Linked DNA regions of Homo sapiens. The protein of the gene in region 3 interacts with the protein of the main gene of each other region in a biochemical or structural test. Each region holds a gene or a part of one and is shown on either strand. Other genes may lie near its edges.

Region 1 (3,652 bases), on a different chromosome or scaffold from region 3:
TATTATTCCCTTTTTCACTTGCCTGTAACAGTCACCAAAATAGGTAAAAGCAAACTGTGGATGCCTTGGGAAAAAAATTCTTTCCATTCACTGATTAGATTTACAGGAAGATTGCCAATGGTATCCAGAGTTGTGGAATCAAAGAAAGCACTGAGGTCACAGGCCAAATCACAGCTGACACAGGCAAACAGTTGCACAAGTGGAATAGAATACAATGCCTGATTCTCACTTGTTGTCTGAAAAAACAATAAAAATGAAATAGGTAAACAGACTTCTACCAGAACACTACAAATAAAGCCAATATAAAGAAAAGCCCCACTTTCATTTCTTTGAATTTTAAAACGAAAAGCAGTTGAGGTGTGTAATCTCAGGAGAAACATAAAATTTTACATCAAAATAACTTTTTTCTTCAAAATTAAATACCATGAATAGAATCATTAATAAACAATTTATTCTCAAGTACCCTTTTTAATTTCTAACCCATGGAAGGAAACACTAAGTCAGACACATTAAATACACATTTATAATCTTCTCAGTAGCCCTACAAGTTGTAAGTTATTATTTTAAAATAAGAAAATCGGCCAGGCACAGTGGCTCATGCCTGTAATCCCAACACTTTGGGAGGCTGAGGCAAGTGGATCACATGAGGGCAGGAGTTTGAGACCAGCCTGGCCAAAATGGTGAAACCGCATCTCTACCAAAAATATAAAAATTAGTCGTGCATGCTGGTGGGCATCTGTAATCCTGCTATTTGAGAGGCTGAGGCACAAGAATTGCTTGAACCCAGAAGGCGGAGGTTGCAGTGAGCCAAGATCGCACCATTGCACTCCAGCCTAAGCAACAGAGCGAGATTCTATCTCAAATTTAAAAAAAAAGAAAGAAAGAAAGAAAGAAAACTGAGTCTCAAATAGTTTAAGTTTAAAACTCTAAGTCACATAGCTAATAGCAGGCAAAGCAGAGATTCAGACCAATCCAACCCTGACTGACTTGCTGCCTTGGAGCCCACAAGTAATATACCTCTGGTTGCTTTGGGTCAAAAATTACACTAATTCCCTCTGAATCTGCTACTATTTAATGCATTACTCTCACAATATTCACACAGTATGTTTTAGAAATAATCTAATTATAACCAAAAAAGACCAAAATAATTGTCATTAACAGATAAAACCTGAAAGGGCTGTGCTGCAAATATTACAATAAGCTAATGGAGAAGGCATTTTAATAACAGGAGATTTGGTCACTGAATGATGCTGGTAGTCATTAAAAATCTATCATTTTACTATTCTGTCAAATAGTAGCTGGTAAGAAGAACATCTATAAAGTGTTTTAAATTATACAAAGGAACCAATTACAATCATCACTTAAAGAATGAGATTAGTAAATAGTTCTGATGCAAAAGTATGTACAAAAACCCACAAGAGGTGATGACATATCGGGTTAATTTACCTCCAACCAAGCCAACATGGAGCACATGATGAAGTCCCACTCACTCTCTGCCAAAGGGGATGAGCAGTATTTCAGAAATAGGGAAAGAAACCGGATTATTTCTATATTTACACCCAGTACCTCTGGACTTGCTTCTGATAGATTACTGTGATAAAGATAAAAACAAAAGACAATAAAAGATTATATTGACATTCAATTAGAAAGTATGCTACTTTAAATCTTACATACTTATTTATAACTGACTTAAATGTCTACCATAATTTCTCTACAAAATTGTGACACAGATACGTAATCTTTGTCTGAATTGTATACTGAAGGAAAAACATAGTATAAAGTATCACCTACCAACTGAAAAGAAAAATATCTTCATGCTCTTTCTTCCAGGATATTATGATTTTTAATATTCCATGTAATAGCTCTCCATCATCTATACTTTTGGTTTGCAGACAAGAATTGAAAATGGCAAGATGTCCAAAACCTCCTAAAGTAAAATTCAAAATGAAAATTAAAAATATTTAAGAACTATATCGCTACTATTAAAAAAAAGTCCACTTTGAGAAGTAAAAGACTTTCTTGAGAAGTGTTCAGGTTAAGAACTCTAATAATGACTTTTATCTAAGAGTCAACAAATGAGCTTATAAGCTCCAAAGGGCAGAGACCCTGTCTCCAAACCCAGCACCTAGCACACAATAGAGAATTTGGGGGAGGAGAAAGAGTGAATGATGCTGTAATTTAAACTGACTTATGCTGTTTTTGTTTTGGTTTCTTAAGTGCAGGACATATTCAGCAAACTCATCATTCAAATAAAAAAAACCCTACAGCTACAGAGTAGCTGGAAACAGCAAATGGAAAATAGAACATACTGTTTCATAATTTATACATTCATTCACTCAATAGCAGCTAGTACATGTGGTAAACTCTGATGTGGACTCACTCTTTAGAATCTCTACCATTCCTCAAAATCCATCCACTGGTGTATCTTAACACCCTCTGTCCCCAACCTTCTATCTTACATACCAGCCAAAATGAACAATCTGTACCCTTGTATGTTTTTGTGTACCTGGAATGCCCTTCCCCAACTATGTCCATATGGAAAACTATTTATCCTTCAACACCCAGTAGAAATATTTCTCTTTGTGAAATTGCCACTAACACCCTCAAAGCAGAGTGGAAACTCCTTCCTTTCTGCCACTTCTATACATAGCACATCTTTTTGCTACATCGGTTATCACATAATACAACTTTATGTTTGTCTTCTCTACAATAGGAACTACCATGTAGCAGGTGCTCATAAATGTTTATTAAATTAATAAACAAATGAAAAGTGCAGTGTTTTAAATACAACAGACGCTATTTTTGCCTTTATATGTTCAATCATTGATTGGCTAGGGAGAAATGAGGCACAGCTTTAAAAAGCTATAGATAGAAAAGAAATGGTTAGAAGGTATTTCTGGGCGTAAGTCTTCCCTTAAGGCCCAGCATTTTTGTACTGTAAAATGGTAACAGCCACTGTCTAACAACACTCATCCATATAATCTCAGAACAAATCAGCTGTAATTCAATTTACCTCTGCTAGATGTGGTCTTATATATTAGAAACAGTTCTTCATCTCAAGCAATAATTAAATTAATGAAATATTTATTATCAAGCAACTAACCATTAGTGCTGCAAAGATCTTTCTTAGTCCAGCCCAAAAGAGCAGGTATACATTGAGCACTAAATTCTTTCTTTTCTTCTTTTGACAAAAATGGACATAGACTTTGAATGGTATGCAAATTGCCTTCAGTTAGTGGAAAAAAACTGTTTAAAGAAAAAAAAAACACAAGTTAGATTTCTTCCAAACATACAGTTATTTTATATATTTCTTTTATTTAGACTACTGAAAAAGATAGATGAATAATTCTATCACATATAATTACATAAAAAGAAACTATGATAGATTTAACAAGTGCTGACTTGATGAAATTGGTTTTTTTTGCTCCTTTTCTCTTTTCTGCATAAATTTTTTAAATGAGCATATATAACTTTTCCCCATATATGATTTTTTAAAATTATACTAGCCACATGACATTATGTCCTCTTTTAAAAAAAAAAAAGAGTCAATTGCGGGGTGCGGTGGCTAATGCCTGTAATCCCAACACTTTGGGAGGCTGAGGAGGGCAGATCATGAGGTCAGGCGTTTGAGACCAGCCTGGCGAACATAGTG
Region 2 (3,652 bases), on a different chromosome or scaffold from region 3:
TATGTATTTTCCAGCTTTCCATTAACATAAATTGGCCAAATCCTGCAGTTTTTTGGTATGTATTGCATATCATCACATGTCACATTTTGTGTCAACCCCCAGAACCTCTTGAGATTTGAGTCTTGTTATGGATCTAAATAATGAGAGGTTTTAGGAGTAGATCTTCAGGAAGATCAGCAGTCCCCTGTAAGGCAGCTGTTTCAGGGGAGGCCATTATATACTCTACAGGCAAAGGAAGACTAATTTCCTCACATATGGGATAAAGGACTGATGCTTCTACTAGCAGAAGATGTCACAGAATTTAGGAGTTCGGGGTACTTGGCTTCATCAGAGTCTGTCCATATATCTTCATTCTACTTTTCAGGGCCCCATTCCTTGCCAGTCAAGGTCCTAACTTTAACATAAGATGTCCTGCAAGAGTGTGAATTCAATTTGCATTGTAACTGAGCCACCTGCAGGATATACTTTGTAGAAGTCTCAGCCCTGTAGCCACATGATATAAGGCTTTCTATGAAGGCAGTTATAGATTTCTGGCCCCCTTACCCAGATTTGAGTAGTGCTTTTAAAACTCCGAGCTCATCATTTTCTTTTCCTGAGAAAAGAATTATCCAGTGTACCTAGAAACAACTAATTAACCCATTATACAACTTATTTTTACTAAAATCTTCTATGGCATCCACTAGTTAGTTACCCAAGGCTTTGTCTTCTGTAGGTCCTTGTCTGCAGATGATGATTTTAAATATTTTGCCACTGCATGCTGTGGACTACTAGTAGCCCCTTTACCATTGGAAACTGGTCATTAATACCTTCAATCAAATCAGAGAAGCAACTTCAGGTTCATATCTTTAAGGACTTCTTTTAACCACTTCCTGTAGCAGAAATTCAGGGTTCAGACAGGGAAACAGAACCACTATGAGTATTGTGGAATTAGGTGTTTATTAGAGGAATTAGACTAGAAAACTAGGCAGGTTGAGCTGCTGGAGTAGGGTTCAGAGGGAGGCTGTTACATAAGTCATGGAAGGCTATTGCCTCTTTTGTGGCTTTGTTTTTGCAGCCAGGTGTCTTCCCAAGGCTGCTGTTACTCAGAGGGCTGGCAGTTGGGAAGAAAAGCTGGACATGTAGTGGAGAAAAGGAAGCAGAGTAAGAAAGAAAAAGGATGAGGACAAACTTTTGAAGCCTGTAGCACAGAGGTTTATATTAAGAAAAGAAGATATGAAATTGTCTTCTAGGAAATGGATTAGGGAAATGTAGGATTGTTCGATAGGACTAATAGCCTGTTGAAGTTAGTGCTTATGAATTTAAAGTATTACCAATGTTTTTCTCCAGCTACATGGTGAATGTTTTTCTCCAGCTACAGCCTGCAGGTTAAAGCACTGAAGGCTTAGAGATAGGATTTAATCAGGATTGAAGTTTTGCCAGGTTAGTGAACAGAGGGAGAAGCAAAAAAGTTGAGTGGTTGGAACATCGACTGTGGAATCTTCGGTTAGGAGGGAAGCAAGAACGGGCTGACAGGGACAGCAAAAAGTTGGTAGAACCAGTGGATTGTAGGTCAAGAGAGAGTGAAAGAAGTTTGGAGTCAGGAGTGTGAGTGCTTGGGAATGAAATTAGAAAGGGATGCTGTTACTGATAGGCTGTGGCAGTGGGTGATCATTGTAGGGAGGATGGCATCATTGGAGAAGAGGAGGTCGAGGAATGAAGAGGTCAGAGGTTTAGAGATACCATCTGTATGGATATTAAAATCACCAATACTTATTACTGGGATTGCACTGGAGAGACAGTGAACAAGGTACTGGTATTTTTTAAAAATAAGGGAAGTGACCTGGGGTTTAATGGACAACCAGCAATGGTAGCAGGTGACATAGTATAAAGGCATAAGCTTCCCCACCTGTAGGCCTGGTGGTATGAGGGTTATGGGAGAGAAAACAGCTGCTATTTCAGAGGGTTGCAGGAGGATCCCTGGGAGAGAACCAGGTTTCAGTTAAAGAAAAAGATGGGAACATTCAGAGAAGAGTTTGAGAATATAGGGGATTTTGCTGATGAAAGTGTCAGAGAATATAATGGCGCTGATTAGAAGGGTGGAAAATGGAGTCAGACGAGGTGCTGTACCCAGATGCAAGGAATAAGTCTGCAGGTTATGAATAATGACCAGAGTATTTTAGGCTTTTTGTAGTGACTGAGGTAAGTAGCCATGTACAGCATGATGTGATTAGTTTTAATGATTCCTTAGGCAAAAATACGGAATTGAGGGAGTGATTGTTTTGGGACAAAGAGAGGTAGAGATTTTGCCAGAAATACGTGGAGCTCCTTCCGTTACCAGCATTCCTTTACCAGAAGGTAATTACTGTCTTGAAGTTGGTATTCTTCTATCGTTGTTTATATTAATATATGAGGATTACATAGTTTACATCTGTAATCAATACTTTGCATTTTTGTGTGTCTTAAAATATAAAAATAACATCTTCTTCTTTTGCAATGTTGTTGTTGTTGTTTTTGAGTTGTCGCCCAGGCTGAAGTGCAGTGGCGCGATCTTGGCTCACTGCAGCCTCCGCCTCCCGGGTTTGAGCGATTCTCCTGCCTCAGCCTCTGGAGTAGCTGGGACTGTGGGCACGTGCCACCATGCCTGTCTAATTTTTGTATTTTTAGTAGAGACAGGGTTTCATCATGTTGGCCAGGATGGTCTCAATTTCCTGACCTCTTTATCTGCCCGCCTTGGCCTCCCAAAGTACTGGGATTATAGGCCTGAGCCACCACACCCAGCCTGCAGTGTTTATAATTAATACATTTTTAAGATTTACTGGCTTGTTACATGTACTTCTACTTTATTTACTTTCACTACTATATGGAATTCCAATATGTGAATATACAGTAATTCTATTTATCCATTCTCCCATTGGTAGATATAAGTTGTTCCCACATTTTACCTATTACAAATGATACTGCACATAATGTTTATGTACACAGTGAGACTTTTTCTGGAGTAGATACCTACAAGTGGAATTTCTAGATAATGCTTGTTTGTTCGTTTTTTTTTTTTTTGAGACGGAGTCTTGCTCTGTCGCCCAGGCTGGAGTGCAATGGCATGATCTCGGCTCACTGCAACCTTTGCCTCCCAGGTTCACGCCATTCTCCTGCCTCAGCCTCCTGAGTAGCTGGGACTACAGGCACCCGCCACCACACCTGGATAATTTTTTGTATTTTTAGTAGAGACGGGGTTTCACTGTGTTAGCCAGGATGGTCTCGATCTGCTGACCTTGTGATCCGCCCGTCTCAGCCTCCCAAAGTGCTGGGATTGCAGGCGTAAGCTACCGCGCCCGGCCTAAGCATATTTTCATGTACTTATTTGCCATCTGTATATCTGCTTTGATGAAGTGTCTGTTAAAATTTGTTACCACTTAAAAAAATCAGGTTGTCGGCTGGGCCCGGTGGCTCACGCCTGTAATCTCAGCACTTTAGGAGGCTGAGGTGGGCAGATCATGAGGTCAGGAGTTTTAGACCAGCCTGGTCAACATAGTGAAACCCTGTCTCTACTAAAAATACAAAAAATTAGCTGGGTGTGCTGGCAGGCACCTGTAATCCCAGCTACTTGGGAGGCTGAGGTGGGAGAATCACTTGAACCCAGGAGGGGGAGATTGCAGTGAGCTGAGATCGTGCC
Region 3 (3,105 bases):
TCCCGGTTCTCGCTGGCCCAGCTCCCCCTCCCCACCTCCCTCGTCCCTGCGCCCCCTTCGCACCCTGGGAATGCCACGCCCTCCCTTGAGGCTTCCCCCCTGAGGACCCCCCACCCCGCAGAAGCCTTTGGGACCACCCGGCGTCAAGAAGGCTTTTGTCCACCCAGGCCACCCACCTAATTCGGTTCTCTTACGTGACTGCTGAGTCTGCCATCTGCCTCCTGCCCGGATTGAAAGCCCGGGAGGGTCTCCACACCCGGGCCCAGGCCAGGCTCTCCAGGGGGCTCAGGAAGCCTCCGCTGCACGGACGCGTGAGGCCGCCGGGGACCCCGAGTGCGGAAAGGACCAACGTGCCCCGCAGCGGCATTCGAAATAAAAACAGCAAACACGAAAATAACCACAGCCCTGTTTTACGCAACCTGCCCCTTTGCAGTTATATTAACAGTGGCCCCTCATTTTTCTGTGAGCCCCACTTTGCTGCTGCTGAGTTCGCCAGCGGGTCACCTGGAAGCACGTGGCGACACGGGCCACATGACGTCATCCCAGCAGGCTTGCGTCATCGCCCCGGGTGCCTGGTGACGTCACCAGCCCGCTCGCGTCACGCGCACGTTCTGCTCCTCGTGGTCCGGCCCGGCCCGCGCCATCACCGGCCCTGCTCTGCGGGGCCACCCGTGCGCCCCTTCGCCGTCCGCTGACTCCGCCCTCCCGCCTGCCGACCCGGCCGCCGACCTTCCCCCGGCTCTGTCGCTCCCAAGGCTTTCTGCAGCCCTCCGTGCTCCAGGCCGCACACCTGAGGGTGGGACCCCCGGAGGCCGAGCCGGTGTCGGATCAAACTCGGAGACCGAGCAGGGCCCAAACCGGGACCGGAGTGGGGACGGGCGGAGGAAGCCAAGAGGCTCGAGACCGAGGCTCGCCCACCCCTCGGCGCCGCCGGACCCTGCGCCACTGGGGGAATTTCCTTCCCGACTTCCCGCGCGGCCACAGCCCCAGCTCCGTCCAGCCCCGGCTCCCGGCCCCCTGGGCGGGAGAGTGAGCCCCGAGACTCCGCCCAGCCCCGGGGGTCCCGGGCCCCGTTCGCCCCCAGCGGCCCCTCCCGGCGCGTTGCTCGGCCCCGGCTGCATCGGGGAGCGCGGGATCACCCGGCCCTGTCCCCAGCGGTGTCGGAGGGGGGCGCGGGCGGGGGCCCCGCATGCCATTGTCGCCCGCGGAGGCCGCGCCCGGAGCCGAGGCGTGACTGACAGCGAGCGGGGGAGGAGCGCGGCCGTCGATTGGCTGGGGCGAGTGTGGGAAAGAATGCGGAGCCGGGTTCACACACCCCGCGGCGGCGAGGCCTTAAATAGGGAAACGGCCTGAGGCGCGCGCGGGCCTGGAGCCGGGATCCGCCCTAGGGGCTCGGATCGCCGCGCGCTCGCCGCTCGCCCGCCAGCCCGCCCGTGGTCCGTGGCGGCGCGCTCCACCCGGCACGGGGAGGCGCGGGGCGCACCATGGCCGCAGACACGCCGGGGAAACCGAGCGCCTCGCCGATGGCAGGAGCGCCGGCCAGCGCCAGCCGGACCCCAGACAAGCCCCGGAGCGCGGCCGAGCACCGCAAGGTGGGGTCCCGGCCGGGCGTGAGGGGGGCGACCGGGGGGCGGGAGGGACGCGGGACTCAGCCGGTGCCCGACCCGCAGTCCTCCAAGCCGGTCATGGAGAAGCGGCGCCGAGCGCGTATTAACGAGAGCCTCGCTCAGCTCAAAACCCTCATCCTGGACGCCCTCAGAAAAGAGGTAAGTCGGGGGCGAAGGCCCGAGACCCGGAGTCTGGGTCGCAGCTGACCTGGACCTCCCGCCTATCCCCGCCCCCAGAGCTCCCGCCACTCGAAGCTGGAGAAGGCGGACATCCTGGAGATGACCGTGAGACACCTGCGGAGCCTGCGTCGCGTGCAGGTGACGGGTGAGGCGCGGGCGGCGGCGGCTTGGAGGCGGGGGGAGGGCGCGGGACCCCCGGGACCCGGCACCGACCTCTCCTCCTGTGTCGCTCCCGCAGCCGCGCTCAGCGCCGACCCCGCCGTTCTGGGCAAGTACCGCGCCGGCTTCCACGAGTGTCTGGCGGAGGTGAACCGCTTCCTGGCCGGCTGCGAGGGCGTCCCGGCCGACGTGCGCTCCCGCCTGCTGGGCCACCTGGCAGCCTGCCTGCGCCAGCTGGGACCCTCCCGCCGCCCGGCCTCGCTGTCCCCGGCTGCCCCCGCAGAGGCCCCAGCGCCCGAGGTCTACGCGGGCCGCCCGCTGCTGCCATCGCTCGGCGGCCCCTTCCCTCTGCTCGCGCCGCCGCTGCTGCCGGGTCTGACCCGGGCGCTGCCCGCCGCCCCCAGGGCGGGGCCGCAGGGCCCGGGTGGGCCCTGGAGGCCGTGGCTGCGCTGAGGCTGTGGCCCTGAGACTGCATCGGAGGCGGCGCCCCGTTCTAGGGCCGTGGCCTTTGCCGAGACTGTAGCAGAGAAAACGTATTTATTATTCCAGAGTCTGCGTCACGAGTTTTCTTTCTTTGTCTTGGTGAAGAGTTGACTTTGGGAGCGCCCCGCAGCCACGCCGCGCCGGGGTCCCGCCCTCCTCCCAGGGCCGCGGTCTGCAGGTGGCTGGGGGCGTCGGGCGGGCCCGGGGGGGCGGGCTGGGGGCGGGACCGAGGACTGAGGGCGACCCCTCCGCTCCGCGCCCTCCGCTCCGCGCCCTCCCCTCCGCATCCCTGCAGCCCCGCATGCGCACCCGCCCTCTGCCCCCGCGTTGGGTTTGCCTCGCTCTGCGGTGGCGGTTGTGAGGGGTCCCCCCGGAGGCTCAGGTGGGAAGCTCAACGTCCCTGAGTGCCCAGAATCTTCCCGGTGCTGGAAGGCGGTCGCGCAGCATCGCCGGGCAAGTTACTTTTCGGAGGCCCCTTTCCCGACTCCCAGTCCCCGGACCGCGGAAGGCGGAGGCTGCGGTCCTGAGCGGCGCTGGGATGAGGGCGGCCGCCCTTGGCCCTGAAGACCCCCGCTGGGTTCTCCTGTTAAGTGCAGAGCTGCCCGTGCCCACCGCAGACCCCTCCTCCAGGCGTCTGTGCGGGGGGCGCCCGGCGGGAGCGCGCGGGTCCGAGCTG

The links.
Region 1: the proteins of HES4 (region 3) and LTN1 form a complex in vitro, tested with the Homo sapiens proteins (one large-scale study listed by BioGRID).
Region 2: the proteins of HES4 (region 3) and COPG2 form a complex in vitro, tested with the Homo sapiens proteins (one large-scale study listed by BioGRID).

What each region holds. Positions count from the first base shown.
Region 1 is NC_000021.9:28,944,361-28,948,012, forward strand, and holds part of LTN1 (E3 ubiquitin-protein ligase listerin), read right to left. Parts: intron 3,247-3,652; coding exon 3,104-3,246; intron 1,928-3,103; coding exon 1,792-1,927; intron 1,592-1,791; coding exon 1,447-1,591; intron 237-1,446; coding exon 23-236; intron 1-22.
Region 2 is NC_000007.14:130,658,739-130,662,390, reverse strand, and holds part of COPG2 (coatomer subunit gamma-2), read left to right. Parts: intron 1-3,652. UniProt on the Homo sapiens protein: The coatomer is a cytosolic protein complex that binds to dilysine motifs and reversibly associates with Golgi non-clathrin-coated vesicles, which further mediate biosynthetic protein transport from the ER, via the Golgi up to the trans Golgi network.
Region 3 is NC_000001.11:998,353-1,001,457, reverse strand, and holds HES4 (transcription factor HES-4), read left to right. Parts: upstream 1-1,360; 5' UTR 1,361-1,484; coding exon 1,485-1,592; coding exon of another isoform or gene 1,593-1,670; coding exon 1,671-1,766; intron 1,767-1,844; coding exon 1,845-1,932; intron 1,933-2,025; coding exon 2,026-2,399; 3' UTR 2,400-2,494; downstream 2,495-3,105. UniProt on the Homo sapiens protein: Transcriptional repressor. Binds DNA on N-box motifs: 5'-CACNAG-3'.